Regions from separate parts of the Homo sapiens genome. Here regions 1, 3 and 4 are each linked to region 2. The links come from fine-mapping of genetic effects on gene expression. A gene starts in region 2. Each other region holds a variant in brackets. All regions are shown on one strand. Distances are from middle to middle.

Region 1 (8,101 bases), 55 kb before region 2:
TCAGGCCTCCCCGTCTCGCCTCTTGGAGGCCTTGGCATCCCGCAGCTTGGGGAACTTCCCAGACTTTTCTTGGGAAGATTCCCAAGTGTCTTGAACCTTCCCAGCCAATCAGGAAATCCAACAACAGCAACCAGTTATTTCTGGAGGGTCCAACACATACCCAAGGGCCGATGGGCTCCCCTGTGCACCAGACACTGCCAAGGCTGTTGCGGGACCTGGTTTTACGTTGTTTAATTTTCAGCTAGTGGTTTGCGTTCATTTTTGTGGAGCAAGTAATTCAGGACCATGGTGAGGTCAGCCAGCCAGAGAATAAAGTTCTCCCTCCCACCCCATCCTCAGTCCTTAATTTTCCTCCCTTGAAGGCAGACATTGTCACTAGATTTTGATTTTCCTCCAGGGATATTCTGCACATGTGTATAAGCAAATCCATATAGAGTTTTACTAAACGAATGATGGCCTACCTAGACACTGCTAGCACATCGCTTCTCTGACCTGACAGTCGTTTCTGGAGCTCTTTCCCTATCAGTAGGAGCAGACCGCCTCAGGCTTCCTTGTGTGAATGGGCCACCGTTAGCCAGTCCCTGCTGCGGGGCATTCAGGCTGTTTCTGCACCCTAAGCAATGCTGCAGCGAATACTTCCCACATACACCCTCCTGCCTGGGCAGGGATGTAGCTGTAGGATCTAGCCCCGGAACTGCTGAACCAGAGGGTATACCCAAGATGCATTTTCTATTTTAGTTCTTGTTTTGAAAAGGTAACACATTCACATGGCTCAAAATCTAAAGACAAGACAGATGTAAAAACCTACCCCTTTCCCTCATTTTCCTCCCCAAAGGAAACCACGTAATTATCCAAAGAGACTTGGCAGTGCCTAATTGGATTTTTTTCCCTTCTTGTGTGGAAATAGTAGCACGGAATACATGTTGGGCTTATATCGCAGAGGTTTTTCCATTATTAGCCCATTACAGAGAGTGTCCTCATGCCTTTTTTTTATTTTTTCATTTTTAAATTTTTATTTCTTTTTTGAGATGGAGTCTCACTCTGACGCCCAGGCTGGCGTTCAGTGGTATGATCTCAGCTCACTGCAACCTCTGCCTCCCAGGCTGGCGTTCAATGGTATGATCTCAGCTCACTGCAACCTCTGCCTCCCAGGCTCAAGTGTTCCTCCTGCCTTAGCCTCCCAAGTAGCTGGGATTACAGGCGCCCGCCACCACGCTTGGCTAATTTTTGTATTTTTAGTAGAGACAGATTTTCGCCATGTTGGCCAGGCTGGTCTTGAACTCCTGACCTCAGGTGATCTGCCCGCCTCTGCCTCCTAAAGTTCTGGGATTACAGACGTGAGCCACTGCACCCAGCTGCCTTTTTTTTTTTTTTTTTTTTTTTTTTTTTGAGACAGAGCCTTGCTCTGTCGCCCAGGCTGGAGTGCAGTGGTGTAATCTCAGCTCACTGCAACCTCCGCCTCCCAGACCCAAGTGATTCTCCTGCCTCAGCCTCCCAAGTAGCCGGGATTACAGGAGCACACCACCATACCCGGCTAATTATTTTTTGTATTTTTATTAGAGATGGGGTTTCACCATGTTGGCTAGGCTGGTCTTGAACTCCTGACCTCAGGTGATCCGCCCTCCTTGGCCTCCCAAATTGTTGGGATTACAGGCGTAAGCCATCGCACCTGGCCTTTTTTCTCTTCTTCTTTTCTTTCCCTTTTTTTTTTCTTTTTTTTTGTGACAGGGTCTCTGTTGCCCAGGCTGGAGTGCAGTGATGTGATTACCACTCACTGCAGTCTTAACCTCCCAGGCTCAAGTGATCCTCCCACCTCAGCCTCCTGAGTAGCTGGGACTACAAATGCGCACCACCACACCAAGTAAATTTTTGTATGTTTTTGTAGACGGTCTTGCCGTGTTGCCCAGGCTGGTCTCAAACTCCTGGGCTCAATAACCTGCCTGCCTCAGCTTCCCAAAATGCTAGGATTACAGGCATGAGCCATCGCGCCTGGCCCTTCCCATGTTTTCAATGTGCCTCTTTGCATGTGTTTTTGAGCCACTTGTATGTCCCTTTCTGTGAGCTGTCTTCACATTTTCTGCCATTTTTCTATCTGATTATTGATCCTTTTCTTACTGATTTACCATTATTCCTCCCTATTTTGTTACTGCTTTTTACTTTTCCATGCTGAAATTGGGCTTTTTAAGATGTAATTTTCTTTTAATTTTTTCTTTCTAGTACTTGTCTGCTCTTCATTTTTGCATTTCAATCCTGTTCCATCTGGGCTTTCTGTAGGAATGAGGTAGGGATCCAACTTCCCTTTTTCCCCAGATGGTTCCCCACTTGTCTCCACACCATTTACTGAATAATTCATCTTTTCCCCACAGATTTGAAATGCCATTTTTATCATATTCTAAATTTCCACATATATCTGGGTGTTTTTCTGGACTCTGTTCTATACAAGATAATTTGTCTATTCATGTTTTGATAACTTTTATTTTTATTTTTATTCATTTATTATTTTTGAGACAGGGTCTCACTCCTGTCACCCAGGCTGTTGTGCAGTGGTGTGATCTGAGCTCACTGCAACTTCCACCTCCCAGGCTCAAGCAATCCTCCTGCCTCAGTCTCCCAAATAGCTGGGGCTACAGGTGAGAGCTACCACACCTAATTTTTGTGGTTTTTGTAGAGATAGGGTTCCCCCACGTGGCCCAGGCTGGTCTCGAACTCCTGAACTCAAGTGATCCACCCGCGTTGGCCTCCCAAAGTGCTGGGATTACAGGCATGAGCCACCATGCCCAATCATTTTTTATTTTTTGAGTCAGGGTCTCACTCTGTCACCCAGGCTGGAGTGCAGTGGCATGATCATAGCTCACTGCAGCCTCGAACACCTGGGCTCAAGCGATCCTCCTGCCTCAGCCTCTCAAGTCATTGGGATTACAAGTGTGAGCCACAGCTCCCAGCCATGTTTTGATAACTTCTTGTACCCTCTTATTCCCATTTCATTCTATTTGAACTTTAGAACTAGTTTGTCCTTAAAAAAAAATTGATCGTATCATTTGGATCACATCAAATGTTTATTTATGGAGAATGGCCTTGTTATGATGTCAATAACAATATTGGATCTTTATATGTAAAGAACAGGAGTAGATGCTTTCCCATTGATTCAGGTTTTCTTTTATGTCTCTGTAATATTTTAAGTTTTCTTCATGTAAAAGTTCTTTTTTTTTTTTTTTTTTTTTTCAGACGGAGCCTCCCTTTGTTGCCAGGCTGGAGTGCAGTGGCACGATCTCAGCTCACTGCAACCTCCGACTCCCTGGTTCAAGTGATTCTCCTGCCTCAGCCTCCCAAGTAGCTGGGATTACAGGCATGCGCCACTGTGCCCAGCCAATTTTTGTATTTTTAGTAGAGACGGGGTTTCACCATATTGGCCAGGCTGGTCTCAAACACCTGACCTCAAGTGATCTGCCTGCCTCAGCCTCCCAAAGTGCTGGGATTACAGGCATGAGCCATCATGCCTGGCCGCCCATTTCGGTTTTTTATTCGTGTTTCACTAGTTGTGCGCTCGTGTCCTCTTTCTGTTCCAGAATCCCACATTCCACGTGGTACTCATGCCTCCTTATATCTGTGAGAGTTTCTCAGCTATTCTTGGTGTTTCATGACCTTGACTGTTTTCAAGGAGTCCTGCTTGGGTATTCTGTAGAAAGTCCCTCAGTTTGGGTTTGTTGGGTGTTTTTCTCATGGTCAGCCTGGGATTATGGTTTTTTAGAAAGAATACCACACAGGTGACTTTTCCTACGCATCATAATCAGGGTGACATGCTATCGACATTTCTTGTCACCTCACGTTTGCCTGGATCACCTAGCCAAGATAATGTTTGCATGTTTGCAGTTTTCTCTACCGTGAAGTTACTTTTCCCCTCTTTATTTTTTATTTTATTTATTTTTTTAAGACAGGGTCTCATTCTGTCCTCCAGGCTGGAGTGCAGAGGCATAAACACAGCTCACTGCAGCCTTGACTTCTGGAGCTCAGTTGATCCTCCCACCTCAGCCTCCCAAGTAGCTGGGACTACAGTCACACACCATCACACCTGGCTAATTTCATTCAATATTTTTTTTATTATTATTTTTAGTAGAGAGGAGGTCTCACTATGTTGCCCAGGCTGGTACTGAACTCCTGGGCTCAAGTGATTCACCAACCTTGGCCTCCCAGAGTGTTGGGATTACAGGCATGAGCCACCGTGCCCGGCCATCCTCCTTTATGTACTCTATTCTTTGGAAGCAAATAACTAAATGTAGCCTACACTTTGGAAAGCGGGGTGGGGGAGTAGCTACATGGAAGTGTTTGGAATTCTTCTTTAAGCAAGACTGGTTTCTTCTCAGATGTATTTTTTTCCCCTGGGAGCAAGCAAGCTGAATGATCACATTTATTCATTTATTTACTCAGTCATTTATATCAGTTTGGACTCATGGATATTTATTTTATAATCTGGGCTTAATCCCATACAACATTATTTACTTTGTTGCTTGAATTGTTGCAGGTTTGGCCACTGGGAGCTCCTTCTGGAAGGTTCCTATGTCCCTGTGACATACCACCATCCTCGTTTTTGAGCACTTCCCTCCTTTCTGCCACCATAAGTGGCTCCAGGATCATCTTGTACTGGTCCTGCGCCAACCCTAGAAACAGTCATCTCTCCAAGGAGCGTGGTTCCTTTCACTGGAAAACCATATTAGAAACCAGGAGCAGCCAGGCTGGGCGCGATGGCTCATGCCGGTAATCCCGGCCCTTTGGGAGGGCGAGGTGGGTGGATCACCTGAGGTC[A/G]GGAGTTCGAGACCAGCCTGACCAACAAGGTGAAACCCAGTCTCTATTAAAAATACAAAAATTAGCGGGGCGTGGTGGCAGGCGCCTTGTAGTCCCAGCTACTCAGGAGGCTGAGACAGGAGAATTGCTTCAACCTGGGAGGCCGAGGTTGTAGTGAGCCGAGATCACGCCTCTGCACTCCAGCCTGGGCAACAGAGCGAGACTCCATCTCAAAAAAGAAAAAAAGAAAAAACAGAAACCAAGAGCGGCCAGGCGTGGTGACTCACACCTGTAATCCCAGCACTTTGGGAGGCCCAGGCAGGCTGATTGCTGGAGCCCAGGAGTTTGAGACCAGCAAAACCCTGTTTCTACAAAGAAATGCAAAAATTTAGCCGGGTGTGGTGGCCTATGCCTGTGGTCCCAGCTACTCAGGGAGGCTAAAGTGGGAGGATTGCTTGAGCCCTGGAGGTCCAGGCTGCAGTGAGCCATGTTTGTGCCTGTGCATTCCAGCCTGGACAACAGAATGAGACCCTGTTTCAAAAATAAATAAATAATAAAAAGGAAAGAAACCAAGAGCTAGATGCTGGATGTATTCACTGCCACTGGGTGTCACTTCTTCCAGGCCCTCTGCTGACAGAGCTAGAAAATATATGTGTGCCTGTTTACCCACGTATACACACATATGCCTCCATTATGTTTTGTATTTGTAGCCATTTACATAGAAAAATGGAAGTTTTATATGTACCAATTTTGTCTCCCCAAACTTAACAAGTTGTCTTGTTTTTCTCTTTGTATCATCTCATTGCATCCCACAGCTCAGTGAAGTCAAGAAAATTAATATTTCTTTCACAGAGAAGGAAGCTGAGAAGCAGAGGTGTTTTTTTGTTTGTTCGTTTTTTGTTTTTTCGAGACAGGGTCTTGCTCTGTCACCCAGGCTGCTGTACAGTGGTGTGATCATGGCTTACTGTAGCCTCGACCTCCAGGGCTCAAGCAATCCTCCCACCTCAGCTTCCTGAGTAGCTGGGACCACAGGTGTGCACCACCACGCCTAGCTAATTTTTTTTTTTTTTTTTTGAGACAGAGTCTTGCTCTGTCGCCCAGGCTGGAGTGCAGTGGTGCGATCTTGGCTCACTGCAACCTCTGCCTCCCGGGTTCACGCCATTCTCCTGCCTCAGCCTCCCGAGTAACTGGGACTACAGGCGCCCACCACCATGCCCGACTAATTTTTTGTATTTTTTAGTAGAGACGTGGTTTCACCATGTTAGCCAGGATGATCTGTATCTCCTGACCTCGTGATCCACCTGCCTCAGCCTCCCGAAGTGCTGGGATTACAGCACCCAGCTAGTTTTTTAATTTTTTTTTTTTTTTTTTTTTGAGACGGAGTCTCGCTCTGTCACCCAGGCTGGAGTGCAGTGGCGCAATCTCGGCTCACTGCAACCTCTGCCTCCCGGGTTCAAGTGACTCTCCTGCCTCAGCCTCCAGAGTAGCTGGGACTACAGGCCCCCGCCACCATGCCTGGCTAATTTTTATATTTTTAATAGAGATGGGGTTTCACCATGTTGGCCAGGCTGGTCTCAAATGCCTGACCTCGTGATTCCCCTGCCTCGGCCTCCCAAAATGCTGGGATTACAGGCGTGAGCCACTGCACCCAGCCAATTTTTAAAATTTTTTCTAGAGTCGGGGTCTCACTGTGTTGCCCAGGCTGGTCTGGAACTCCTGGGCCCAAGCGATCCTCCCGCCTGGGCCTCCCCAAGGTGCTGGAATTACAGGCGTCAGCCACTGCACCCAGCCCAAGGTGCAGAGAATTTAAGTAACTTGCACAGATGACACAGCCCTGGAAGGAGGTTTCAAACCCAAGAAAAGAAACTTTCAGAGGCTTGGAAGCCCAGCCCTGCCCAGCCTCCTTGTGTCCTGATGGCTGGAAGACCAGCCCAGCCCTCAAGAGGCTGCCTGGCTGTGATTAGTGGGAGTCATCATGAGGATGTCCAAGGACCCACTACACCCCAAGCATGTGAGCTGTGGAGGATCCCTCCATTCGTGGGTCCAGGAGGTGAGTTACTGGTGGTGTGGAGCCATGATTCGTGGCCAGGACAGACCATAATTAGTGGTGACTGGTGTGGCCTAGCAAAGGAGTCCAGAACTAACACCCCCTGGGAGCTGGATGCAGTCTTGGGTGCCTGACTTCAGGGATGGGCTGGAATCAGGCCCAGTTGGGAAGAAACACATGGGTGAAGGCCAGGTAGCTGGTGTTAGGAGCCTGTGGGCAATGAACTGGGGAAAGCAGAATTCCCCACCTGGTGCCTGCCCCTGCCCAGCCCTCCCCACTATCTGTGGCTTGATCCTTCAGGGCTCAGTATAAGCCCCTCAACTCCCGCTGGACTGGTGCTTACCCTAGGCCTCCTCATCTCCCCAGGCCTGAACCAGCCCAGAGCTCCTGTCTTCACCCGTCCCTGCCTAGCTGCATGTCTGTCTCTTTCTCCCTGCCACAGAGGGTAGGCAGGACCACCTTGGCCACTGTGTGCCTAGTGCCAGTCCCCTCTGCTGAAGGAGAAGATGCATGCATAGTTGGCAGGTGGTCCCTGGAGCCCTGGATAGGGGCATTCAAGGAGTGCCCAGGAGGCCCCTGGGGAATAGGGATTGGAGGGGGGCAGCAGGCAGGAGGCCTACAGCCTTTCCTTGGGGAAGGAATGAGGGGACTGATGAGAGAACCCTGAAATCCACATCCCAGGCAGACAGGCAGCTTCAGCCCCCCAGCCTGCTGGTCTTTAGGAAGCCTGGCACAGGGCTGCACACTCCCATTAGAGCTCATTTCAGCCCCTGTGGATGGGGGGCTCCACGGGACCTAGAGGCCTCCCCAAGTCCCTCCCGACAGGGGGCTGAGTGGTCACTGGGGGCTGAGCTTCAGTTGAGTACTTCCTGAGAACCCTCTGGGTCCAGATGAAGCCAGGCTTCTCAGCCAGGCTCTGGAGCCCAAGGGCCTGGGTTCCGGCCCCTGTGCTGCCATTTTCCTGCTAGGCAACTGTGGCCCAATCATGGCGTCCCAGGGAGCCTTAGTGAGCATGAGGCTGTGGGTCAGGCTTGGCACATCGCAGGCCCTTGATAAATGGGCACTGCTGCTAGGAACGCTGCTGTGAGAGTCTCCTAGGGAACATGGCACGTTTGCAGGGCTTCATGGGAGCCTCAGGACGTTCCCAGTCCACAGTGCCCCTTCCCCTCGCCATCCAAAAACACATACTGGGAGCCAGAGACGCCTCACACACAGCTCTGTTTGCAGTGTCGGAAGGAGAAGCAAGGAAAGTTTTTCAGAGAAAGAATACCCAGG
Region 2 (8,096 bases):
AATTTTCATCCCTTATCTAAGTAAACCTCCCTATAATTTTCCTTTTCCTATGAAATTTATAACATGCATCCAAAGGGACCAAAAACTGGTCCACTGAGGTGTCTACAAGTAGTAAAAACAAACGGAAAATAGTTTTCAGAGCGCTACTGCATTAAAGTTAGATAAATTTAGTTTTTTTTTAAAGGCAGTTAAAGTAATTATTTTTGAAAATTCTGCCCAATTCTTTCTTCTCCACAAGAACACATATCTTGTTCTGTCTGAAGACAGTACTGCCATTAGGACGGAAAAAAGGGGTCCTTTATTTTCCAATCAGAAAGTAGTCCCTCATCCAAAACCAACAATTGACAGCTCTTCATGGCATCCACTTCATGGAATCCAAAGCCAGCCTCACAATCCCTCGGCGGCCTGAGAGAGCTTTGCTGAATCCATCTCTTCACGTTGGCTTATCTGCCTACCTCTCTGTACTTTACTGGACTACTTTCTTTCCTTTGTACACACTCTTAACTCAAAACCCTGAATCACCAAGAGGAACAAATCAACTGCCCAAAGGCTAACCTATAATGAAAAAAATAATCTGTTCATGACAATCTTAAAGGCATTTTCAATAGCACTACAAGTCATACTCTCTCTGACATTAAAACTAAATGCAGATCATTTTTTCCATGTGGCATCTACAAAATAAACACAGCAATGAATCATTTAACATCAAATATTTTAACCCACGTTTTGTTGAGGTCTTTGCTTGAGAAGTGATTGTAAATCACTGTCATGTAAGTTCAACGTTTGCAAGACGACTTTTACGCAAGAGCAGTTATGTAAAACATCAAACTGGCAAAGCTGATATGGAACAACCAATGACCTCTTATCAGTGAGAAACCACAGGATTCGGCCCTATACTAACTGGTGGGCTATAGAAGGTAGCAAATTTGTTTCATGAACTTACATTTATCTTCCTAGAGCACACAAACATCACAGGCCCTCAAGCAAGCTATTAGGTTGATGCAAACGTAATTACTTTTGCACCAACCTAATACAATTACAAACTGGTCAGATTATTCAGCAACCGTGTTCGTTTTTAACCCCCAAAAGTGAGCCACTGACTTCACTAAAAATCACTTCACTGTGATTGAGCGCTGGGGGTTCTAGATTGCTGCGAGTCTGCATTCCAATTCTTTGTTGCACTGGATATATATGCTTTACGTACTTTTCTACATGAGATAACATACGAGGAGAGAAAACTTCTATTATTAACCCAAGGCAACGGTTTAACACTTTAGAGCAGTCACTATGGAAGCTGCTTCACACTACCTGAGTTGAGCTTCACAGTACCTGAGCTGAAGTCAGCATAGGACAAATTTGTGGAATGCTTATGCTGGAAGGTCAGAAGGGCTCAAAAGCTTAAGAGGTCTAGCCTAACTTCTGTATTTTACAGGAAAGGAAACTAAGGACCAGATTACTTATGTGACTCTCTGAAGGCCCCCCCAGCCAGGCCTAATGTGTTTACTTTGTGTCAACAGAAACCACAACTGTAATTCTAATACAGTACAGCACATGGTAGTTACTGGTGAACAAGGTTTGAACAAAGTTGACTGAAAAAAGGCACGTCCAGCCACGCAAAAATGTCAACGCACACGTTTTGCCTTTTCAGGCTTTTGCAGAGCAGAAGAGGGTGGATAGGGCACCTAGGAAACCACTTCCCACCGGGAGGTTAGCTGTGGTATTTCAGTCCTCTCTTCTACCGGCACTCTTTGGTATCCACTCTTTGGTATCCCGGCACGAACAGCCAACACTTACCTGTTTATTGACCACAGATGGGGAGAATTCTTAAACTGTCCTTAAGTTGCTGGATTCTGGACTCCAAAAACTCTGGAGTGCCCAGAACTTTTCCTGTCTTCCTTCTCATCTTCTCCCACTGTCTCTAAGGCCTGGAACCAGGTGGCCTGAGAATACCCCCGGGGCAAAAATGCTCCACCCTGCCAATTTTCGCGGGTTAGTGTACCCACAGATTGCGAACTGCAGGTGATGGCTAGGCGACACTCTTAAACGCTCCTTCCATCAAGGACCACTCTACTCCCATTTTGGAGTTCCCAACCGGGGCTTGCTTGCAAGTGCCTTTAAGATTGCTTCTACTGGCCTTTTTTCCCCTCTCCTCTGTCGACCTACGAAATCAACAGGCCTGCCGGCCTAACGCAGGCGAATAAACGTGCGAGGCCACTGCTGAAACATAATTCAAATGAAGGCTCGGCCTTTTGTTCCTCCTAGGTCAGAGAGACCAGAAATATCTTTCTGGTAGCGTTTCTCGTCTCTCGACCCAGGCTGGCCTTATTATACAACGGATGTCCCTCGGCGTTTGCAGAAAAAGGGCCCTGGGAAGCCACTTAATTGGTTTTGGGGGAGGGGAGGACGTGGATTAATAACGATAAAAATGGAGAAGCCCAAGAAAGCGGCAAACTGGGGGCCCTGGAGGAGGGAAGCACATTCTGTCTAAAGCCCAGGCGAGCAGAAGTTCGGCTTGGGGCTGGAAGCCACAGAGGGGGCAGCTCGGCAGCGCCAGACGCCCCAGCCGACTGGGTCTTAAGGATGACGGGGCTCCCGCTCATAGGCCGGCACCCCTCGGCCCACAAATCCACGGTATCTTTATTTGCTTTTTCCCCTGGTTTCTCAGGAAACCCTGAAAACGGGGAGGGAGGCCTCACAGGGACAGCAGCCTGCGGGCCCCCCGGCGGTTTCATAGTGACCGGCTTGAGGCCTGGCCAAATCCTCCCCTTCACGCAGGGCCTCGAAGGCCGCAGGCCCCGCCCACGTGGCGGGAGGCCCGGAGCTCAGGGCGCGAGGACCGCCACACAATGGAGGCCAAGGCGGGCCCCGCGCGCCCCCGCCGCAGCAAGCCCCCCGCGCGCCACGGGCGCCGGAAGATTCCAGAACCGGCCCGCCCGGTTGGGGGAGGGGAGAGGAATGCGGATCCCCGAGCTCGTCGGGCCGCGGCGGGTGCCTCAACCCCCTCTCGGCAACTCCACTCAGTCTTCCCAGCCAAGCCCAGAGACGAACGACCCCCAGTTTGGGCGTTCCGGCTACCGCCGGCGCGACCGCAGTTCCACCATACTCACCCGTGGACGCCATTTTCTCTCCTTCCTCCTCGTTCTCTCAACGTCCGTCTCCCTCTCGCTTTCCCTCTAGGCGCCGCACTGCGCAGGCGCAAATCTCGCAACCCCGGGCGCGACCATCGGGCCAGGCCACGGGGGTGGGGTCAGGAGGGATGAACCACCGCTTACTCGTTCTTCGCGTCCGCAACTCTTGTCCCAGTCCTCTCTAAAGAGCGCCCGACGTGACACTCGGGCCAAAATAGCATCTAAGGGGCCAGAGCGGGGGTGAGCGGGTCTCAGCGTGAAACCGGAGAGGCTCTCAGCACGAGACTAGGCTGTTTGGAATGGTTCCGTCCGCTGGCTCTAGGGACGGTCGCTGAAGAGTCGGCCCTGCAGGGAGACGGAGATCGGCGGGAGGGCTGGGGGAAGGGACCCGGACTAGAACAACTGCTGACTAATCCGCGGGCCGCGGGGAATGGGTGGCGCGCCAGCCGGTCGGCAGGGGTCACGCGGCCGGGTGTGCGCGGAATGGATTCAGGGTTCTCGGGTCGCGCCCGGGAGCTAGAGTCCTGACTCCCAGCCGGGGTCCCCGACCGGCCTTTCGGGGTTGCCGGGCGCGCTCTGCAGTGAGTACCCGGGACGCGTGGCCCGGGCCAGCGGGGAAGGGTCCCCAAGGCCGGTCGGCTGGGTGGGAGGCCTCGAACGCCGTGCCTGGCCCCGAGACCCTATCCCCGGTAACGGTCGAGGTGGAGCAGGCCCTTTAATCATCCCTCATCCGATATCCTTGTTTCTACAGAAGGGGAAACTGAGGCCCAAGGAAATTGAGTATCTCTGCAAAGTCACCAGCTGAGTTCGAACCAGACAGATCCTGGGACCCCCTACTCTATCCGCCACCGGAAGAATCTCCGTCCTTGTCTTTCCATTCTGCCCTCCCGGCTTCCCAGTAAGGTAGGCAGGGCCTGGTGGTGCACTGCCCCGTTTCATAGATTGAAGAAAGTGAGGTCCAGGGGGCTCAAGTCCCAGTTCCGAGTGTCCACGGGTAAGCCCTTCACCCTTGCTAAGGTGCCCAGAGCTGGGGAATGGTTGTGAGGTGTCGATGCAGGAGGAGGTTTACGGTGGGTGCCTTGGCCCCAAACCCTGCCTCCAGGCAAGGCTGACCCTGCCCACCTTCCTGGACCTCTAGCCCCAGCCCCCTAGGTGGATGCCCGGGTCCGCGAAGGGCAGGGTTCACCTTCAAATCCCTCGGCAGGACCAGGAGCCAAGCTAGTGTCCTTTTTTCAGTGAACATATATAAAGCACTGGCTGTGTGCTGTGAATACCCTGGGGAATGTGGGGTTGGATCAGAGGAGCCATGAGCTCAGACCACCTGCCTAGGGAGACAGACTGGCCAAGCTGTGCTCCTAAGGATAAGATCCATGATGTTAGGGGGCCAGAGGAGGGGAAGGGATATTTGAGCTGGGCTTCCAAGGGTGAAATAGGAGTTTGCCTGCTGGCAAAATGGAGGGAAGGACAATGCAGGCAGAGGAGCTTTCCACATTTTTCCTGCAGGAAACTGGTAGATGTGGAGAAGGCGCTTGGCAGGGGAGCAAATTAGGCAGCCTTCTTGTCTCTCTGGGATCCTGCTTCCTGCCCTGAATCAGCTCAGTGGGAGTCCTGGGACCGAGAGGCCTGACCAGGGGTGAAGACCTACAGGCCCTGGAGGACAGGCTGGATGCAAGAGAACAGCACGGGGGAGAAGGCCTTGCTTTGGTGGGCAGGGAAAGGCCATGTTTGAGGGCCAAAGCTGGGACCAGCTAGGCTGGAGCAGCCACCTCCATATTGAGGCCTTCTCGATGGGCCAGTTGGTGGCTACAGACGCCTGCCATGATTAGTGCGGATTGCTATGGTTTATGGAGGAAGAGTTGTGGGCCAGGGCCTGCCTTAGCCTATTCCTTTTTATTTCATCATACTCTGAGGAAAAGAATTTATGAATTTCCATTTTACAGATGAGAAAGGAGAGGCTCATCTGTAAAATGAGGCTCATCTGTAAAAAGATGAGGTTGGAAACTTGCCTCAGGACACAGAGCAGAAAGAGGTGGAGCGCATACTGTACCCTTCCTGTGGAAAGGGGAGCCAGGGCCAGAGGGGCTGTGCCAGTAAGGAAGCAGGAGGAGGCTTACAGTGGATGGGTTCACCCTCAAAGGGGATGTCTCAGTCGCAGGTCTCTGAGTATGGCTCAAGATGTGGGACTTCTGCCCATCTGCCCTACCCCTTACCCTGTCGGCTTGCCCATTGTCTGGCCCCACCCCAGGGTCAAGGGCAACTGAAACCATCTGGAGCATTAAGGCTGGGAACAGGGGAGGGGAGGAAGGAGGGAGGTAGTAGTCTGAGGGAAGGGGGAGGACAGAAGAGGGCTAGAGATGGCCCTGAATTCGCCCTGGGGGGTGAGGGCCTGAACCCCTCTTTTTGGGAGTTCAGGGCCTATCAGGACTCAGAAGTCTCTATGCCTGTCCCCTGCCAGTCCTTAAACAGAGGTGAGTGGAATGGTAAGATGGCTTATGAGCGCATGGGTTAGGGTCTGAGCTCCACTAAGGCCAAGCTGCTGGGCCTGCGTCTCCAGCCTGTTTCCACCTCTGTAAAATAGGGCTGTTGATAAGGTGCTTGAGAGGGTATTGGTGAGATAAAAGCTCCAGTAATAACTTGTTATTGTTTTCTTTTATCCCCAGCACACAGCCCCAGGACCACCCTTGACCGTCCTCAACCAAGCGATGCATGCCAGGGGCCCCCATGGCCAACTGTCCCCAGCACTGCCTCTGGCCTCCTCAGTCCTGATGCTGCTGATGAGCACCCTGTGGCTGGTGGGGGCCGGCCCCGGCCTGGTCCTGGCCCCGGAGCTGTTGCTGGACCCCTGGCAGGGTGAGGGCCAGCCACGTGGACCTTGGAGGAAGCAGGAGACTTGCTGTAGGGCCTGGGCCCACTTGGCAGGAGCAGCACAAGGCCTCCAGGGGTCAAACAGGGATGGGGCCCAGTGTCCCGGGAAAGCATGGCCTTAGACAGGAGCATGCCCAGCACATCCACAGCCAAGAAGGGAGGCAGAGGACTCCCTAGGGTGGGCTGGAACCTATGGGTAGGAGTGCTTTTCTCATGGTTTCCCTTTCTAGCAGCTTTTCCTTGAAATAAGAACTAAGGCCAGGTGGCTGACGCCTGTAATCCCAGCACTTTGGGAAGCTGAGGCAGGTGGATCACTTGAGGTCAGGAGTTCGAGACCAGCCTGGCCAACATGGTTAAACCCTGTCTCTACTAAAAATACAAAAATTGGCCGGGCGCAGTGGCTCACTCCTGTAATCCCAGCACTTTGGGAGGCCGAGGCGGGCGGATCACGAGGTCAGGAGATTGAGACCATCCTGGCTAACACGGTGAAACCCCGTCTCTACTAAAAATACAAAAAGATTAGCTGGGCGTAGTGGCGGGTGCCTGTAGTCCCAGCTACTCGAGAGGCTGAGGCAGGAGAATGGCGCGAACCTGGGAGGCGGAGCTTGCAGTGAGCCAAGATCGCGCCACTGCACTCCAGCCTGGGTGACAGAGTGAGACTCCATCTCAAAAAACAAAACAAAACAAAACAAAAAAACAGCTAAGACTTTCAACTAAGCATCAGGATGGGAGGAGGAGGTGTTGGGGTTTTGAGGAGTGACCTCAGCTGAGCACCTGTTTCCCAATAATAACTCCTCCAATTTGTATTTGAGGACCCCCAATGATGCTCAGAGAGGTTAAGTGATTTGACCAGGGTCACACAGCTTGAGGGAATGGGGTAGCTCCAGGATTGAAGCAGGCCATTTCATGCTCTCAGCCAGGTATGATTTAGTAAATACAGAAGCAGAGTACCTTCATGGTGTCTGGGACATAGTGAGTGCTCTGTAGCGGGTTGTCAGTGAAAAGACTGAGTGGCACGTCCAGTGTATTCTGTTTAATACCACAGAGGCGTAGCCACAGTGTTTGGAAGTCCTTGGTCCCTTCCACCAATGATTAAGTGCTGGCTGTGGGAAGACTGGCTCCTGGGGAGGGGAGGTGGGCTCAGCAGGTGGCCCTGGTGTAGCGTAACCTTCAACCTGGCACACCTGGGACAGCCTTGGATGTTGGGGCCACTAACCTGGCACATAAGCCCCTTCTCTCTCCCAGTGCACCGGCTGCTGACCCATGCCCTGGGCCACACGGCCCTGCCAGGCCTGCTCCTGAGCCTGCTGCTCCTGCCCACTGTGGGCTGGCAGCAGGAGTGCCACCTGGGCACGCTGAGATTCCTGCATGCCTCAGCCCTGCTCGCCCTGGCTTCTGGGCTGCTGGCAGTGCTGCTGGCAGGCCTTGGGCTGTCCAGTGCAGCCGGCAGCTGTGGATACATGCCTGTCCACCTGGCCATGCTGGCTGGGGAGGGACACCGCCCTAGACGGCCCCGTGGGGCACTGCCACCGTGGCTGTCGCCGTGGCTGCTGCTTGCCCTGACCCCACTGCTCAGCTCTGAGCCACCCTTCCTGCAGCTCCTTTGCGGCCTCCTTGCCGGCCTGGCCTGTATCCTTTGCCTGAGCCCAGGGCCCGTGGGGATGTGTGGGTTCTGTGGGTGGGTGCCTGGGAAGGAAGTGGCACAAAGGGGTGAAGGCCCAAGCAATACCAAGGAGCCGTGCACACACATTCCAGGAGCTTCTCTGAGTCTTCCTCTGGGACATGCTCTGGGCTGGGACCTGGGGTCTTATGGCCTGGTGGAGGTGCCAATTACAATGTAAAGGGCTACGTGGGCTCCCTGTAATATCAATGCCATTCTTCGCAGAAATAGAAACAATAACCCTAAAATTTATATGGAACCACAAAAGGCCCAGAATAGCCAAACCACCCTGAGCAAAAATTAAAAATTAAAAAAATTAAAAGCCTGACCGGGCGCAGTGGCTCACGCCTGTAACCCCAGCACTTTGGGAGGCCAGGCGGGCAGATCACTTGAGGTCTGGAGTTCAAGACCAGCCTGGCCAACATGGTGAAACCCCATCTGTA
Region 3 (8,101 bases), 28 kb before region 2:
TCCAGGCGAAGTTCTGGTTTCCACAACCCCTGCATACAATTACATCACAGCAGAAATCACCAATTGAACTAAGGAAGATAAACAAGGAAAGGTGGTGTGTGAACAGGTACACACTCACTATCAAGAGGATCTATGTACACCCATGCTTTAGGGCACAGCCTCAGGCAGCATTGCACCCACAGGACAGGTCAAATCAATCTTCAGAAGGCTCTGAAGCGTCCAGTGAATGGCTGACTAGTGTCCCTAACCAGCCATCAGGGTCATCATTCTGTTCCTCTAGACAGAGCAATCCACTCTAGAGTGGGGATGGGGTGAGGGAAGGGTGGCTTCACTCGTAGGGTATCAATTTGCCAAGACAAGTACATACGGATTGGGACACTGCCAGTCTCCAGCTCGGTGCTGGACGTTTCCTCCTCCAGAGGGGTTCCCTCGGGAACCCCGGGGTCCTCTTGGAGGGAAGCCTCCTCTATCTCCTCCACGGCCTCCCATGCGACCCATGGGTCCCCCAGGACCTCCTGGGCCTCCTGGACCTACAACAAGAACAACAAGAAACAGCAAATCATTTCTCTGTAGCACCAAATTTGCTATAGGAAATAAAAATCACTAAGTAAACCCACAGATACTACTGCTGTCATTTCCCCATCACCTGTCCCGTGTTTCCGTGTGGCTCAGGCCATCAGCCCCCTTCCCTGTGAGGAGCGTGTTCCACGTGCTCTACAGAAACAGAGCTCCCACAATTTTTTTTTTTTTTTTTTGGAGACGGAGTCTCACACTGTTGCCCAGGCTGGAGTGCAGTGGCACGATCTTTGCTCACTGCAACCTCCACCCCCCCAGATTCAAACAATTCTCCTGCCTCAGCCTCCCGAGTAGCTGGGATTACAGGCATGCACCACCATACCCGGCTAATTTTTGTATTTTTAGTAGAGAGGGAGTTTCACCACGTTGGCCAGGCTGGTCTTAAACTCCTGACCTCAGGTGATCCGCCCACCTCAGCCTCCCAAAGTGCTGGGATTACAGGCGTGAGCCACTGCACCTGGCTGAACTCCCACAATTCTGTAAGGAATAGGCATGTCTATACAGACACAACCAAAGCTGAATAAATGGCAGTCTGGAGTTGACAGGCAGAGTGGCTTCCAGCCTCCCATGTTCTTCTCTTCCTTTTATTCCCAACAAACATTCATTGTTAGCTCTCGATAGTCTAGTATTGACTCTACACACAATTTTATATTTCTTCACTCTAATAATCAAGTTTCTCAAGGGTATGAAGTGTACTGAAAACCTTTTAATGCAACATAGGAGCTCAGAAAAAGTACCTCCACGGAGTGGTGGTGGCATGCCTCTGCCCTCACGGGGTGGCAGACCACCCCGCATACTGTTCATTGGAGGCTTCTTCCGAGCAAGGGAGACTTTAAGTTTGCTCCCTTGAAAATCTTTCCCTGGAACAAGACAACAGAACATCAATTACTCCCCTGTACTCCCTGTTCACCAACTCCACATCATCATCAAATGACCACTCCCAGATGCATTAGGTCTGCCTGTAATCTTCTCTAAGATCTTTAATGACAAGGCCAGAAAAAGGCTTTTTTTGAGATGGGAGTCTCACTCTGTTGCCCGGGCTGGAGTGCAGTGGCACAGCTCACTGCAGTTTCAATCTCACTTGCTCAAGCAATCCTCCCAAGTAGCTGGGACTACAGGCACGCATCACCATGCCCGACTAATTTTACAAAATTGTTTGTAGAGGCAGTGTCTCACTAGGTTGCCCAGGCTGCTAGTGAACTCCTTGGTTCAAACAATCCTCCTGCCTTGGCCTCCTGAAGTGGTAGGATTATAGGCAAGAGCCACTGTGCCTGGCCAGAAAAAGGCCATACTTAAATACACTTAAAAACCTTCCTACAGCCTGACCAACATGGTGAAACCCCATCTCTACTAAAAAATACAAAAGTTAGGCTCAGCGTGGTGACATGCGCCTGTAGTCCAGCAGCTACTCGAGTGGCTGACGCACAAGATTGGCTTGAACCTGGGAGGTGGAGGTTGCAGTAAGCTGAGATGGCTTGTGTCACTGCACTCCAGCCTGGGTGACAAAGTGAGACCATCTCAAAAAAAACAACACAAGCAAAAAACACTGTCTACCATAAGGAGGAAAATAAGCTGGTGGGAAGCTGACTGCATGACCAAGAAAACAGAACCAGGACTTGTTATTTGACACTTTCTTTGAGACAGAGTCTTGCTCCGTTGCCCAGGTTGGAGTGCAGTGGTGCAATCTCAGCTCACTGGAGCTTCAAACTCTCCGGGCTCAAGTGATCCTCCCACCTCAGCCTCCTGAGTGGCTGGTACTATAGGTATAGGAGTGTGCCACAACACCTGGCTAATTTTTGTATTTTTTTTGTAGAGACAGGGTTTTGCCATGTTCCCCAGGCTGGTCTCAAGCCCCTGGATTCAAGCAATGCACCGATGTTGGCCTCCCAAAGTGCTGGGATTACAGGTGCAAGCCACTGGACATGGCCAAGTCATTCAATGCTTTCAAGTTGGTTTTGTCTGAAGTGAAATCCCACCATTAATGTCAAGGCCTCATTTAAATATATATATTTATCTATATGCAAATGTACACTGGCTAAGATGTTCTTTTGAAGGGTTTTCTGTACCTTCTGATAATCTGTGCTTAGGAAGTGTTTGCCACTTTAAGCAAGGTTGATTTGTAATACTAATGCCTCAAAATAAAGGGATCTCCAAATCCAGGGTCAATGGCTGGGTGCTACTACTACTGCAGGGAGACCGGCCATCTACCTCCCCCAGGAAGAGATGGAAGGTCTTCTTGCTCCTATGGTTCACAAGTTTCTCCCTCATGCCATATTCTATAGCCAGGGAGATTAAGAATGCCAGTGAGTACATCTCACCATCAAACCATTCCACGGCAGCCTTGGCAGTGGGTGGGTCTTCATAGGACACTGTGGCATCGCCTTTGGGCTTTCCTGTTTCCTTGTCCAGGTAGATGTGGATCATGGGTTGCCCAGTTCTCTTGTTCATCTAGACAAAGAATAGCATAGTTAGGCATGACTAGAATATACTAATTTGGGAGAAAAAAGTCCAGGCAAAATCCAGGAAAAGTACCAATTTCTCACATGTAGTAAGTCACTAAATGTCACCGTTTCTCCGCTTTTAAGTTTTTCAGAATTCTAAGTTATTTTCTCCTCTATCCCTGCTTTATCATAAAAACCAAAGTAGACCAAAGTGTGGAAGTGAACAGGATAGGCCCCACTCCTGCCTTAGCCATCTTCTGATGCTGGTTTGCCTGCCCTGGCATTTTCTATGCCCAGACAGGTATCCACTGAGCACAGCCACCTCGTAGGGGTAGTCAGACTTTGATACCACCACATAAGACATGACTGGCATAAAGAAAATTATCCTTAAACCGTGAAGGACAGTGTACAGGCTGTGAGTGAACTACAGGGATTCTTGGTTAGTCTAACACAGCCACTACTTCCTCCAGTTAGAACAGATGACTAGTCTTTCAGCTGAATATCAGATGTGGTTGACTTGAATTCAGGAGCTACCTTGTATAAGAATATCTTCACGTGTACTTTTTTGCATTATATATGCACACGATCAGTTTAGTCTGTAATTGTTTACATATATCCAGTAACACAAGAGCAATCTATTTATAGGACTTAAAAAAGATTACAACAGGATATATATATTGATACCTCTGACTTAAAAAAAGGAACGTGATACCTAAAAACTGAAAAGAAAATATGGCAAAACTGTGGTATGAATAATGTGGAAATGCATTTTTTTCTTTTTTGTGAGACAGAGTCTCACTCTGTTGTCCAGGCTGGTCTCAAACTCCTGGGCTCAAGCAATCCTTGGGATCCTCCTGCCTTGGCCTCCCAAAGTGCTGGGATTACACATGTGAGCCACTGTATCCAGCTTGGAAATCTATTTTAACATCTTTATTTCCAAAATTTTGATGGTAAATACTACTTTCTTAACCAGGATAAACTCCACATTCCTCAATAAACTACATGTTATATACATATTAAAAAGCAGTCTTTTTAATATGCTCAAGCCTGTACTCCCAGCTACTCAAGAGGCTTGAGGCTTGAACCCAGGAGGCGGAGGTTGCAGTGAGCTGAAATTGTGCCACTGCACTCCAGTCTGGGCAACAGAGCAAGACTCCATCTCAAAACAAAAAAGCAAACAAGGAGTCTTGCACAGGGTAGAATGTGACAGTAGACACTAAAAGCATTTTACTTTTGAGGTGTGTGTGATATCTGTGCACACACACACCTACAAGCAGGGAGAAATCACCTTATATAAGATTTACCAAAATCAACTGTATTTCCTTTTTTTTTTTGAGATGGAGTCTTGCTCTGTCGCCAGGCTGGAGTGCAGTGGCGCCATCTCAGCTCACTGCAACCTCTGCATCCTGGGATCAACTGATTCTCCTGCCTCAGACTCCCAAGTAGCTCAACTACAGGCGCGTGTCACCACACCCGGCTAATTTCTGTATTTTTAGTAGATACGGGGTTTCACCACGTTGGCCAGGATGGTCTCGATCTCTTGACTTCGTGATCCACCCACCTCGGCCTCCCATAGTGCCGGGATTACAGGCATGAGCCACCACGCCCGCCCAAAATCAACTGTATTTTTTTTTTTTTTTTGAGGCGGAGTCTCACTCAGTCACCCAGGCTGGAATGCAGTGGCGCCATCTCAGCTCACTGCAAGCTCCGCCTCCCAGGTTCATGCCATTCTCCCGCCTCAGCCTCCGAGTAGCTGGGACTACAGGTGCCCGCCACCAAGCCTGGCTAATTTTTTGTATTTATAGTAGAGACGGGGTTTCATCGTGTTAGCCAGGATGGTCTCGATCTCCTGACCTCGTGATCCACCCGCCTCGGCCTCCCAAAGTGCT[A/G]GGATTACAGGCGTGAGCTACCGCGCCCGGCCAAATCAACTGTATTTCTATACACCAGTAATAACCAGAAAAGTGTCATTTAACGAAGACCCTTAACCACAGCAACTTGAAAATAAACGAAACCTAGAAGTAAAACTAGTAAAATTTGCAAGACCTTTAAGGAAATCGATAGTCTTTACTGAAGATCTAAATAGGCTGGGTGTGGTGGCTCACACCTGTAATCACAGCACTTTGGGAGGCCTAGGTGGGTGGATCACGTGAGGTCAGAAGTTCAAGACCAGCCTGACCAACCTGGTGAAATCCCATCTCTACTTACAAAAATTAGCCAGGGGTGCTGGCAGGCGCCTGTAATTCCAGCTACTCGGGAGGCTGAGGCAAGGAGACCCGGGAGGCAGAGGTTACAGTAAACCAAGACTGCGCCACTGCAATCCAGCCGGGTGAAGGAGTGAGACTCTGTCTCAAAGTAAAATAAAATAACAAATAGAGACAGGCCAGGCACAGTGGCTCATGTCTGCAATCACAAAACTTTGGGAGTTGAGGCGGCAGATCACCTGAGGTCAGGAGTTCAAGACCAGCCTGACCAACATGGTTTCACCAAACCCCATCTCTACTAAAAATACAAAAATTAGCTGGGTGTGGTGGCGGGCACCTGTAATCCTAGCTACTCAGGAGGCTGAGGCAGGACAATCGCTTGAACCCAGGAGCCAGAGGCTGCAGTGAGCCGAGATCGTGCCACTGCACTCCAGCCTGGTGACACAGCAAGACTGTCTCAGTAAATAAATAAGCAAATAAATATACAAATAAATGGAGAAATAAAATCTTCATGGGGAAAAAAAGATCACTCAGTATCATAAAAATGTAAATTCTCCTGAAATTACTTCATAGATTTAGTAAATATTCAATTGGGGTTTTAAGGTTTTGAGGTTTATGGGGTTCATAAACTAACTCTAATACAGAAGAGCAAGAACTGAAAAACAGTCAAAATCCCTGAAGAAAAAATCTGCGTTACTAGCTATGAAGAATTAGCATAAAGACACAATAATTTGAGGTTGGGTGTAGTGGCTCATGCTTGTAATCCCAGCAATTTGGGAGGCTGAGGTAGGTGGCCACTTGAGGTGGCCAGGAGTTAGAGACCAGCCCGGCCAACAGGCAAAAATCCATCTCCACTAAAAATATAAAAATTAGTTGGGTGTGGTGGCATGTGCCTATAAGTCCAGCTACCTCAAGAGGCTGTGGTGGGAGAATCACTTGAACCTGGGAGGCTGAGATTGAGCAACACTCTGTCCCTAGGGGTGGAGGAGGGAAGGCCGGGCGTAGGGGATCACACCTGTAATCCCAGCACTTTGGGAGGCGCCAAGGTGGGCAGATCACCTGAGGTCAGGAGTTTGAGACCCGCCTGCCCAACACGGTGAAACCCCATCTTTACTAAAAAGACACAATTAGCTGGTGGCGCACACCTGTAATCCCAGCTACTTGGGAGGCTGAGGCAGGAGATTCGCTTGAACAGAGGTTGCAGTGAGCCAAGACTTGCGCCATTGCACTCCAGCCTGGGCACCAAGAAGGAAACTCCGTCTCAAAAAAAAAAAAAAAAAAAGGCTAATCTTTTTTAAAAAGGAACAAACCATAAGATACCTAGAAAGAAGTCAGGCAAAGGCAACCTTAGAAAACAACTCTCAACATCAATTCAATCTCTTTAAAATGCTCTGTGGTTTAAAGTTCTGCCAGATGACCTGGTTATGCTTTTACTGACCTTAACAACCCCACACTGCTTAAAGAAGTCTGCCAGATCATCTAGAGTCACACTGTCATTTAATCCTTGTACATAAATTGCACTGTTGTCAGAGTCTTCATCTGGATCTACAGGTGGGCCTTTCAGAGACAACAAGACAGGAGAATTATTATCATGTATCTATAGGGGTTTCTTAACTACCTGATCACTACTGCCCAAGGATATTCATCATAAATCTAAGAAAACTACCAAGCATACTAAGAAGAATGCTATCAAACTTTTGGTTTACTTCACTTAAGGCAATTATGAGTAGATGCTCACATAGGATTTCCCAAACTGTCCTTGACAGCAAGAATATCACACTGGTCTATAAGGCTGCTGAACTCTACGCATGCATTTACCTCTGTACCATTAATTTACAAAGCACGATATGAAGCACAACTAGAATTCAAAATTACCTAGATCAAGATCTGGTCCTTCATCCATGGGTCCTGCCAACCAGGAAAGATCATATAAAATATTATTAGTGCACGTCTTGCAAGCTACAAACCTTACAAACACACATAGCTATCTACTATACCACCATTTGATGGGGATTCATTAAACTCAAAATGACCCGCACTGCTAAAATGGAGCAGTGTCTCTTTAACATTTGTGAAAGGTTTGCTAGGGTTTGCTTTTTTCCTTTGCTGGTTTGCTTCTAAACCATTAACCAAATACACTCTCAATGCTTATGTGCCAAATCAGTGTTAAATTTAAGTCAAAATTTTTCCTCTAAATAAACCAAATTTAAAAATTTATTCTCCCCCATATTACAGAAGCAGTTACTCAATACTTCAAGTTACCCTTTGTTTTGTAACCATAGGTTAACCTTATTAACCCCTAAGACAATGCCGGCAGTACCCATTAGTCTCTTTTGTATAGATCATTTTTAAACCACTTATGAAACTAATAAAAAAATTATAGTTTTCTAAAAACTGACTGCATTTTTTTTTAAACACTATCTATGGTAATACTCAAAAACTTACCACCAGGCTTATTGAAGCCACCTCGCTCTCCAGCGCTGCTGGGGGGATAAACGAAGAAATGAAGGCCTTTCCCTTTAAAAGCCAGTACCGCTCTGAGCCTTGGGGGGGCTCGTGGGGAAGAAGGGCACTGGCTAAACACATCTCCAAACAATGCATCTCTCTCATCTTGTCACTATGCCTTTCTTCAGGGCAGCTTGCTCAAATTTCCTCAATATACAACCTTGCTTGTCTGATTGTACACACCAGTGTGGTTGGTTCCTTTCATTTCGGGGGCTGGTATTAATAGTGCAATACTTGGCAAATTAGCAAGAAAAAATAGATCCCAAACACCCACCCCGTCAGGTGAAAAACCAGAAGAGCTTGGTATAGAGGGGAGGAGCAAGTGGGGGTTAACTGCTGTGATAAACCTTTCCATGTTCATAAAGGTGCACCCTCAAC
Region 4 (8,101 bases), 66 kb before region 2:
TTTTAAGCAAAGAGATGAACCAGTCTGATTTGCACTTGAGAAAGATGGCTGCGTCTGCAGGGAAGGGGTGGGGCAGAAGCACCGGCCCCGGGGGATTCCGTGGCAGGGAGGAGGAGTGCTGGGGCAGCTGGACCACGGGGGCTCTTGTGGGTGGAAACAGCGGCCAGACTTGAGAGCTCCCTGGGAGGGAGGAGCCGGGGCTGAGGGAAGGAGAGTTGAGTTTGGGATGTGAGGACATGCGGGCCTGGCACTGAGGAGAGCTCAGTGTGGGCCATGTTGTCAGTGTCAAGGAAGCTGCCAGAGGGGACCAACCAGGCCTGATCCCCTCATCACACTCAGATCAGAAGTTGTGTTTGCCAGAGCTCCCCTCTCTCTTCTGAGGTCCCCACCCCAAAGCAGGATACAGTTGGCGGTCAGGGGCAGTGACAGCTCTGTCATGACTAGGGAGCCATGAGCCAGCACCTCCCCACCCCCTGAGCTGGCTTTCCCCACCATATGCCAGCTGCACCTGCAGTGGTGGTGACTGGAGCCCCTGGCAGGGTCTGGGCACTGAGAGGCCCACAGCAGACAGCAACTCGGACACTAGTAGCCGCACACTTCCTTGTAGGGACAGCACAGCATTCCACAGCCACCGCCAGCACGTCCTCCTCCCAGCAGCCCTTTGTGGCTCTTCCTCCTATTTCGTGGTTGAGAAATCCTAGTGCTTTTGCCTAAGGTCACATAGCTGGTGACAGAGTCTGGAAGTGAAAGCAAGTGACACTAAAGCCTCTGCTCCAGACCCCTATATGATGGTCCCCACAGAGCGTGAGAACCACCTGTGCACCTGCCTTCATGCGTGGGGTGTCAGGGCCAGCAGGGCCACGGGAACGTAGAATCGCGGCATAACGTACAGCATGTGCAGTTGACTTACTACCTGGATTAGCTGCACCAAGGCATGAGGCCAACTCGTACTCACCAGAAGCCCAATATCACAGGCATACAAAGCAGGACTAAGGGACAGAGAACAGCAAAGACTCCTGTAACCCTGTGGGTGCCAGCCCTTGCCAGGCACTGCAGAGCTGCCAGGAAAAATAAGCCTGGAGCTGGCCTTTGGCAAGCTGGCACTAGGCTTGTGTGTTCATCTTTTTTTTTTTTTTTTTTTGAGACAGAGTTTTGCTCTTGTCACACAGGCTGGAGTGCAATGGTGCGATCTCAGCTCACTGCAACCTGTGTCTCCGGGGTTCAAGCGATTCTTCTGCCTCAGCCTCCCGAAGTAGCTGGGATTACAGGCACCTGCCACCATGCCTAGCTAATTATTTGTATTTTTAGTAAAGACAGGATTTCACTATGTTGGCCAGGCTAGTCTTGAACTCGTGACCTCAGATGATCCACCTGCCTCGGCCTCCCAAAGTGCTGGAATTACAGGTGTGAGCCACTGCGCCCAGCCATGTGTTTGTCTTACCAGTGTTACCCCTGCTTTGTCTTCGTGAAGGGTCAGATGAGTGTATCCAACAGAGCATGCTGGAAAGGAGAGGGGAGGGGATCTCCTAGTCAAGAGTCATCAGGGCAGGTTGCCTGGAGGAGGAGTTTTTCTGCCACGGGCAGGACTTTCCCCACTGCCTTGGTCATGGGAGGGTTCTAGGGTGTGGGTGCACTATCCCTTCAGAATCACTCAGTAGGTATCCACATCTTCCTAACAGCGCTGTGGCCACCTGGAATTGTTCATTCCTCATGCATTTCCACACCCTGCTTGTGGGGTTACAGACATTGGCCAACCATGTTGGTCTAAGGAATGAGGCTGTCTGTGCATAAGAACTTTTGGGTTCCTCACCATTTGAGTCTGCTGGTGGTGACAGTTCATTGGTTCATCCAGTAAAGATTGAAGATGGTTCTGTTGGGACCTGTGTGAGATGCCATGAACCCATAGTGACCAAGAGCAGTGCGGTCTGCATCCCCAGCCTTGGGCGACTGAGAGAGGGCCAGGGGAAAGGAGGCCTGATTGGGGGGCCCCTGGAGAGTTGTCCATGAGAGAGCCATGCCCCCCGGTCAGGTTCAGCCAGCTTCTGCGTACTCTCTCAGCCGCCGTGGCACAGCCAAGAACAAAAGCAGGGTGCTTTCTGTCCTCACAGATCTGTCCGGGGGCGTGCTCAGGGTTAACCGAGCAGGATGGGGGTGGGGAGGCGCTTTCAAAGCAGAGGGAACAGCCAGTGTGAGGTCCCAGGGGCAGGGGCAAGCCAAGCCTGGGGAGCAGATGGGCACCAGGCTGTGGAGGCCAAGGCCCGTGGAGGCCATTGCAGGATTGGAAGGAGTTTCTCAGGGTGCCATGATCAGATTTGCATTTCACAAGATAACATCAGCTGCTGTGGAAAGGGGGAGAGGGTGGAAATGGGGTGCCACCTGGCAGCTGCTGTCTTACCTGGGAAATCTGGTGGCAGCTTAGATGCTGGTGGCACCTCTGGAGATGGAGAGAAATGGAGGCCCTGGAGGCAGATGTAAGAGGTGGCCTTCACAGGACTTGGGTTGCGTGACTGTCTCAAGGGGGTTAGGGTGGGGTGGGGGGCTGGTGCCTGATGTTTCTGTGGTTTCTGGCCTGGCAACCTGAGAGACAGTGGGACCTTTGTTGGCACTGAGTGCGCTGCGGAAGCTGTCGGTGGGGTCTGAGCCTTTTCACCTCAAGGGGCCTGTGAGCCGTCCACAGGAGAGTAACCGCCTGAGAGGCGTTTGTGAGCCCACAGGATGCCGCTGGTGGATGTCTTCCATGGCAGGGCTCTAACTCATCCTGTTTGCTCAGCAAACACTCCCCAAACACTGGTTTCACACCAGGCTCTGAGCCAAGGTGGTAAAGACAGAAAAACAGAGCCTTTCCCTCAGCGAGCTCTCTGAGTACAGGAGAGACAGACACAAGCTCATATTTATCTGCCATAACATCACTGGGGCGAGGGAACCTGGGGGCAGGGTTCCAGGAGGAGGTGGTTCTTGAGCTGAGACTTGAATGACAAGGGCAGCCAAGCAGCAGAAGGCCTGCCAGGCGAGGGGTCCTCTTAGGTACTGTCCTTGGTCAGACCAGTTTCTACAGCCAAAGGCCAGCCCTGCCTCCTGCAAGGGAGGACAGGCGGTGATGGCCAGGAAGGCCCAGATTCTGGCCGAGGCCCAGGATGCCATTGGGCACTGAGCTCTGTCCTTAGCTCATGGCATCCCTCAGCCCTACTTCCCAAGTGATCCCTCCATTGCCAGCTCATGGCCTCCCTCAGCCCTACTTCCCAAGTGATCCCTCCATTGCCCTCTGAGGACTCAACGTCAGCCCTGGAGCGCTGAAGTGCCTCCCCACCCTGAGCTGCTCCGAGAGGCAGCCTGTCATGGCGGTGGCCCTAGATGGTACATGGGATTGTTCTGTTCCCAGTACACACCTGTTCATCCCCTAGCAGTAAAGGTGGGGGTGCTGGATCTGGGAGGCCCCTGCAGGAGAGAGAGAGAAAAAGCACCCTCAGGTGGGCTGTTGAGTTTGGGCTGCAGGAAGAGGCACCTACCCGCCCCCTCCGCACCCTCTTCCCTGCAGGTCTGGCTCCCAGCCATGAAGGCTAAGGGGCTGGAGATCTCAGGCACCTTCACCCGCCAGGTGGGCTCCATCTCCATGGACCTGCAGCTGACCAACAAGGCCTTGCAGGTCATGACCGACTTTGCCATCCAGTTCAACCGCAACAGGTGAGAGCTCCCTGAGGCCAGCGCACCTCTCAAGAGGAGGCCTGTGAGAGAACCCACTCGGAGTCTGTTCTGGGGACTGCAGGCAGGGGTGGGGGCTGTAGAGGGGAGGGCAGTGCCCCTTTTCTGAAGGATGTTCCCCACCACCGCTCAGGCCAAAACTCTCTGAAGCACTGGGTTTTGTTTGTTTGTTTTTTCTTTTGGAGACAGAGTCTCACTCTGTCACACAGGCTGGAGTGCAGCAGCGCCATCTC[G/A]GCTCACTGCGGCCTCCACCTCCTGGGTTCAAGCAATTCTTCCGCCTCAGCCTCCCGAGTAACTGGGACTACAGGTGCACACCACCACGCCTGGCTAATTTTTTGTATTTTTAGTAGAGATGGGGTTTCACCATCTTGCCCAGGCTGGTCTCGAACTCCTGAGCTCAGGCAATCCGCCCACCTCGGCCTCCCAAAGTGCTGGGATTATAGGTGTGAGTGACCGTGCTCAGCCAAGCAGTGGGATTTTTACCCCCAAGTGGCCTCTTCATATGGACTCCAAAGTACCAGGCAGAGTGGGAAAGGACGTCTTTCTTTTTAGTTTTTATTTTTTTTGAGATGGCCTCAGTGTATTGCCCAGGTTGGTCTTGAACCCTTGGGCTCAAGCAATCCTCCTGCCTCAGCCTCCTGGGTCTCTGGGACTACAGGTGCACGCCACCACACCTGGCCCCCCTTATTTTTGCCTCCACAGTCCAAAGGAGTGTTTTACAGACAGAAACGCCCTGCTCCAGCTGAGAAGCCCACCTCTGGCAAACACCCCACATAGGAGGGGCCCATCTTAGGGACCAGCTCTCAGAAGGCTGGTGGGGAGTGGGCCTGCCTACCAGCCTCCCCATTGTGGCAGAGGATTAAAGTGTCAGATGGGGCCTCTGGGAGCGGTAGCTGCTTCAGGCCCCTCCCCACCGGGTCCGCTACACTGGGTGTCAGTGGGAAGGTTGCGTCATGGACCCAGCCAGTGAGGCTAGGACTCCCTGGGGACCCCTGGCAGCCCCTCCTGATGATTCTTCTTCCTGAGCACGCTCATGATGAGCAAACTGAGCCTCTAAGAAGTTGACTGAAGGGGCTGCTTCCCCAAGGAAGCCTGGGGGCCAGTAGGTCCTGACCCTTGGGCAGACCGGGGCTAGGGGTGGCTCTACCACTTACCCTCATGTGACCCTGGAGGCCACAGAAGTGCACCAGGCTCCGAGAGGTGGTTCCAATGGTTGCCTCTAGCAAACTTACTGTGTGCTGAATGCTTCCTGGGCACCCAGGCCCTGTGGCACCGGCTTTGGGAGTATTGTCTCACTTGAGCCACTTGATGGCCCAGCAAAGTCACTGCCATCACCCCTTTTTAGTAGGTAATGACACCTGGGCTCCTTGGACAGCTCACATAGCGAGCAGTAGTGGAGCTCCCAGGAAAGCCTAGTGTGCTGAGCCACCAAGCGGACCTGGGGTTCCCCAAATGGTCTCCCTCTGTGTCCCAGGCAGGCTGATGGCTTCTTGGGCAGAGCACAGGCTGGGGTCAGACAGCCCAAACTCTGATTCTCAGCAGCGCCCTCACCCTATGGGGTCTGACACAGGCCTGCTCCTCCCTGAGACGGTGTCCTCATCTAGAGGATAGGAAGAGGTGTACCTGGCTCTGTTTTTATGAGGCTAGGAGCAGGTATAATATTGAATCCGCAGCCCAGGTATACCGAGCCCTCGGTTTGTGCCCCCAGTCCCATGCCCTGTGACTTACCTTCCAAGAGCCTGCTGCTGGCGTGTCTCACACCCATGAGGATCTTCCTAATTTGTCACTGTGCTGCTTTGCAGAGAAGCAGAGCTTTCCTGAATCTCTCTGTGGCCACTGTGTGACCTGGCAAGTTCTGGCCAAGAGAGTAAAATCTAGCGTCTTGCTTGGGATGGTCAGATCCCTTCTGGGAGTTGAGGATTGGCAGCAGAGACTTGGGTGGTCCCAGAGTTTTCAAGGTAGAAGCAGCTTATACTCCAGGCCCCTGGCATTAGACAGAGCTCCTTGAGGGCAGGACAGGGCAAGGCCTGCCTACCTGGGCCCACCAGTGCCTGGCCCAGAGGAGAGGAACAGAGCTGGGCTTCAGGCCTGCAGCCAGGCTGGGGCAGAGCAGAGCAATTGGCCTGGGGCTCTTTCTTTCTGTCCAGATGGCCATCTGGGGGAGGGGACCCACAGCCCATCCTTCTGTCCAGGGTCCAGAACATGGGAAGGCTGGCACGGTGAGAGGCTCCCTGCCAACCACAGCCCCAGCTCCCGAGTCGGAGGAGCTCACCTGTCCCGCATCAGCACCTACTCCCCCTGCCATCCCTGTGGGGCTTCTCTCTCCCCAGCTTTGGCCTGGCCCCCGCCGCCCCCCTCCAGGTCCACGCGCCACTCAGCCCCAACCAGACAGTGGAGATCTCCCTGCCTCTCAGCACGGTGGGCTCGGTCATGAAGATGGAGCCTCTGAACAACCTCCAGGTGGGTTCCGGGCAGGGCAGGCACCCCAGTCCTTACTCACCTACCAGCCGGGCCCCACTGGGGTCAGTAGAAGGTCGTGTCTGCGGAGTCATGCTCTTAGCTGCAGATGTGTTGGGGAGGCCCAGGTTGGGGAACGAAGGGGTGTGTTTACCAGGGAAGGCCCTGGGAGAGAATCTGCTCAGTGACACTCTTCCTGGGGCCTCAGAGGTGGCGTCAAGCCCCAGAGACTGACTGGGGACCCCCTTGTGCCTAGGTGGCCGTGAAGAACAACATCGATGTCTTCTACTTCAGCACCTTGTACCCACTGCACATCCTCTTTGTGGAGGACGGGAAGATGGGTGAGTCATGAGGGAGCCCGCTGGGGTGCCTGAAATGGGGCTGTGGCTTGGGAACCTGGCCAAGGTGGTGCCTTTACCAAGGTCCAGATGGACTGCCTTGCCCGTAAATGGAGTCGGGGAGTTGCTGCTTCCCTGCAGGGCCTGGAGTGAGGGGTATACCCAGGACCCCCCCGGCCTTAGTGGCCAGTTCTGGTCTGGCAGGTGGGCTGTGCCACATGGAACTCACCCCACTCCCAGGCTCTCCTGCTCGCTCCTCAGCCTTGTCCCATGGGCTGCAGCGAGCCCAGGTCATGCCCCACACCTGGTAACCCCCTCCTCTGTGCCCTTTCTGGAACCCCCAAGAAGGGTGTTGATCACAGCACACAGACGGCCTGCACCCTGCCCCTGGCTGCGTGGAGCCCTTGGCCCATGTCATCTCTTGCTTGCCACAGAAGGCCTGCATGGGAGGCTGTGACTAACGAGCAGGCTGCTCACCGAGGAGGAGGAAGGCGTGTGGGGGTGGGGAGGGGAGATCCAAGGCCTGGAGGCAGGAAGCCAGGGTCATTTGGAAGCGGCACTGGGGCCTCCCTCACAGAGCGGAGGGTGTGCTTAGGGAAGCAGGAGGGCTGTGCGGCAGCTAGTGCCTGTTGTCAGCTTTCACGTGGCACAGTAAAGGCCAGACCCATTTCCTGCTGAGCTACAGAGGGCCCACAGGTTTATGAGGGGCTCGCCTCTCATCCCCACCCTGCTCACCCCGCAGACCGGCAGATGTTCCTGGCCACATGGAAGGATATTCCCAATGAGAATGAGGCCCAGTTCCAGATCAGAGACTGCCCCCTCAATGCAGGTGAGGACTCCGAGCCCCCGACCCCAGCCCCTCGCCTGTACCCAGGCCCCCGCGCTGACTGGGGCCTCTCACGGCCATGTGACCCCACAGAGGCTGCGAGCAGCAAGCTGCAGAGCAGCAACATCTTCACTGTCGCCAAGAGGAACGTGGAGGGCCAGGACATGCTCTACCAGTCCCTGAAGCTGACCAACGGCATCTGGGTGCTGGCGGAGCTGCGGATCCAGCCGGGCAACCCCAGCTGCACGGTGAGAGCCCCGGCACCCGCCCTGCAGCCTTGGAGCCTCCCCTTCGTCCCATGCCAGGGGGTGGCCCTGGTGGAGGACGCGGTCCAAGCGTCCCTTCAAGCCTGGCTTGAACTAGAATCAGTTTGGTCCCTGAGAAGGACCTTTCTAGAAAGCTTCCAAATCAACCCCGTCAGGTTACCCAGATAAGACACCAATTGGGTCTCGGAACAGTGAGTTGGACTAGAAGATTGTGTAAAATTGGGCCCTGTAAGGTGGTGCAGTTGGTTTGGCACCCCTGACTGGGAAGTGACATTGCTGGGCACAGGCCCTGGCCCTGTCCTGTGAGTGCCTGCATGTCCAGCTGGGAGGACAGTGGTTCCCAGGAGCCTGAACCTCCCAGCCTTTGAGGTAGACCTGTTAGAGAATGGCTTCCCTGGGGCACACAGTTGTCCTGGAGGCCTGCACCGCTGTTCCAGGGCCCCGGACAGCCCCAAACTCTGCTTCTCCCCCACACCCCTGAGTCTCTGGCAGGCATGGCCCTCCAGACACTGCCC

Direction of the effects. Alleles are on the strand shown, and positions count from the first base shown. SD is a standard deviation of normalised expression in the study named. Not every link is listed here.
For the expression in pancreas of the gene that starts at base 3,476 in region 2, G is the low allele of the variant in region 1 and A is the other (small effect, 0.29 SD a copy in GTEx).
With allele G in place of A in region 4, the expression in sigmoid colon of the gene that starts at base 3,476 in region 2 is higher (small effect, 0.22 SD a copy in GTEx).

The links. PIP is the estimated chance that this variant, and not a neighbour inherited with it, causes the effect. A credible set is the group of variants that fine-mapping cannot tell apart.
Region 1: its variant is the best candidate, but not a certain one, in a credible set for the expression of RHBDD3 in pancreas (GTEx, PIP 0.88).
Region 3: its variant is the best candidate, but not a certain one, in a credible set for the expression of RHBDD3 in testis (GTEx, PIP 0.72).
Region 4: its variant is the best candidate, but not a certain one, in a credible set for the expression of RHBDD3 in sigmoid colon (GTEx, PIP 0.52).

The regions. Positions count from the first base shown.
Region 1 is chr22:29,318,037-29,326,137 of GRCh38, reverse strand. It overlaps a transcript of RASL10A not described here. Among named protein-coding and RNA genes, the nearest start is that of RASL10A, 6.4 kb to the right of the region's middle. The variant A/G (reference allele first, on the strand shown) is at 4,801.
Region 2 is chr22:29,263,361-29,271,456 of GRCh38, reverse strand. RHBDD3 (rhomboid domain containing 3) reads left to right here and starts at 3,476. Exons shown (of 7, transcript NM_012265.3): 1 at 3,476-3,709; 2 at 3,880-4,031; 3 at 5,789-5,978; 4 at 7,239-7,622. The coding sequence starts at 5,831. EWSR1 (EWS RNA binding protein 1) reads right to left here and starts at 3,189. Exons shown (of 17, transcript NM_005243.4): 1 at 3,108-3,189. The coding sequence starts at 3,120. RefSeq lists enhancers at 1,592-1,641, 3,104-3,163, 3,274-3,333, 2,726-3,597 and a silencer at 2,844-2,933.
Region 3 is chr22:29,291,162-29,299,262 of GRCh38, reverse strand. It overlaps EWSR1 (EWS RNA binding protein 1), which reads right to left. Exons shown (of 17, transcript NM_005243.4): 9 at 7,664-7,701; 10 at 7,094-7,126; 11 at 6,657-6,775; 12 at 2,895-3,024; 13 at 1,314-1,436; 14 at 368-530; 15 at 1-29. Among named protein-coding and RNA genes, the nearest start is that of GAS2L1, 11 kb to the left of the region's middle. The variant A/G (reference allele first, on the strand shown) is at 4,907.
Region 4 is chr22:29,329,845-29,337,945 of GRCh38, reverse strand. It overlaps AP1B1 (adaptor related protein complex 1 subunit beta 1), which reads left to right. Exons shown (of 23, transcript NM_001127.4): 17 at 3,536-3,681; 18 at 6,030-6,159; 19 at 6,413-6,497; 20 at 7,237-7,323; 21 at 7,414-7,568. SNORD125 (small nucleolar RNA, C/D box 125) reads left to right here and starts at 4,688; the gene lies at 4,688-4,783. RefSeq lists an enhancer at 6,630-7,586. The variant G/A (reference allele first, on the strand shown) is at 3,933.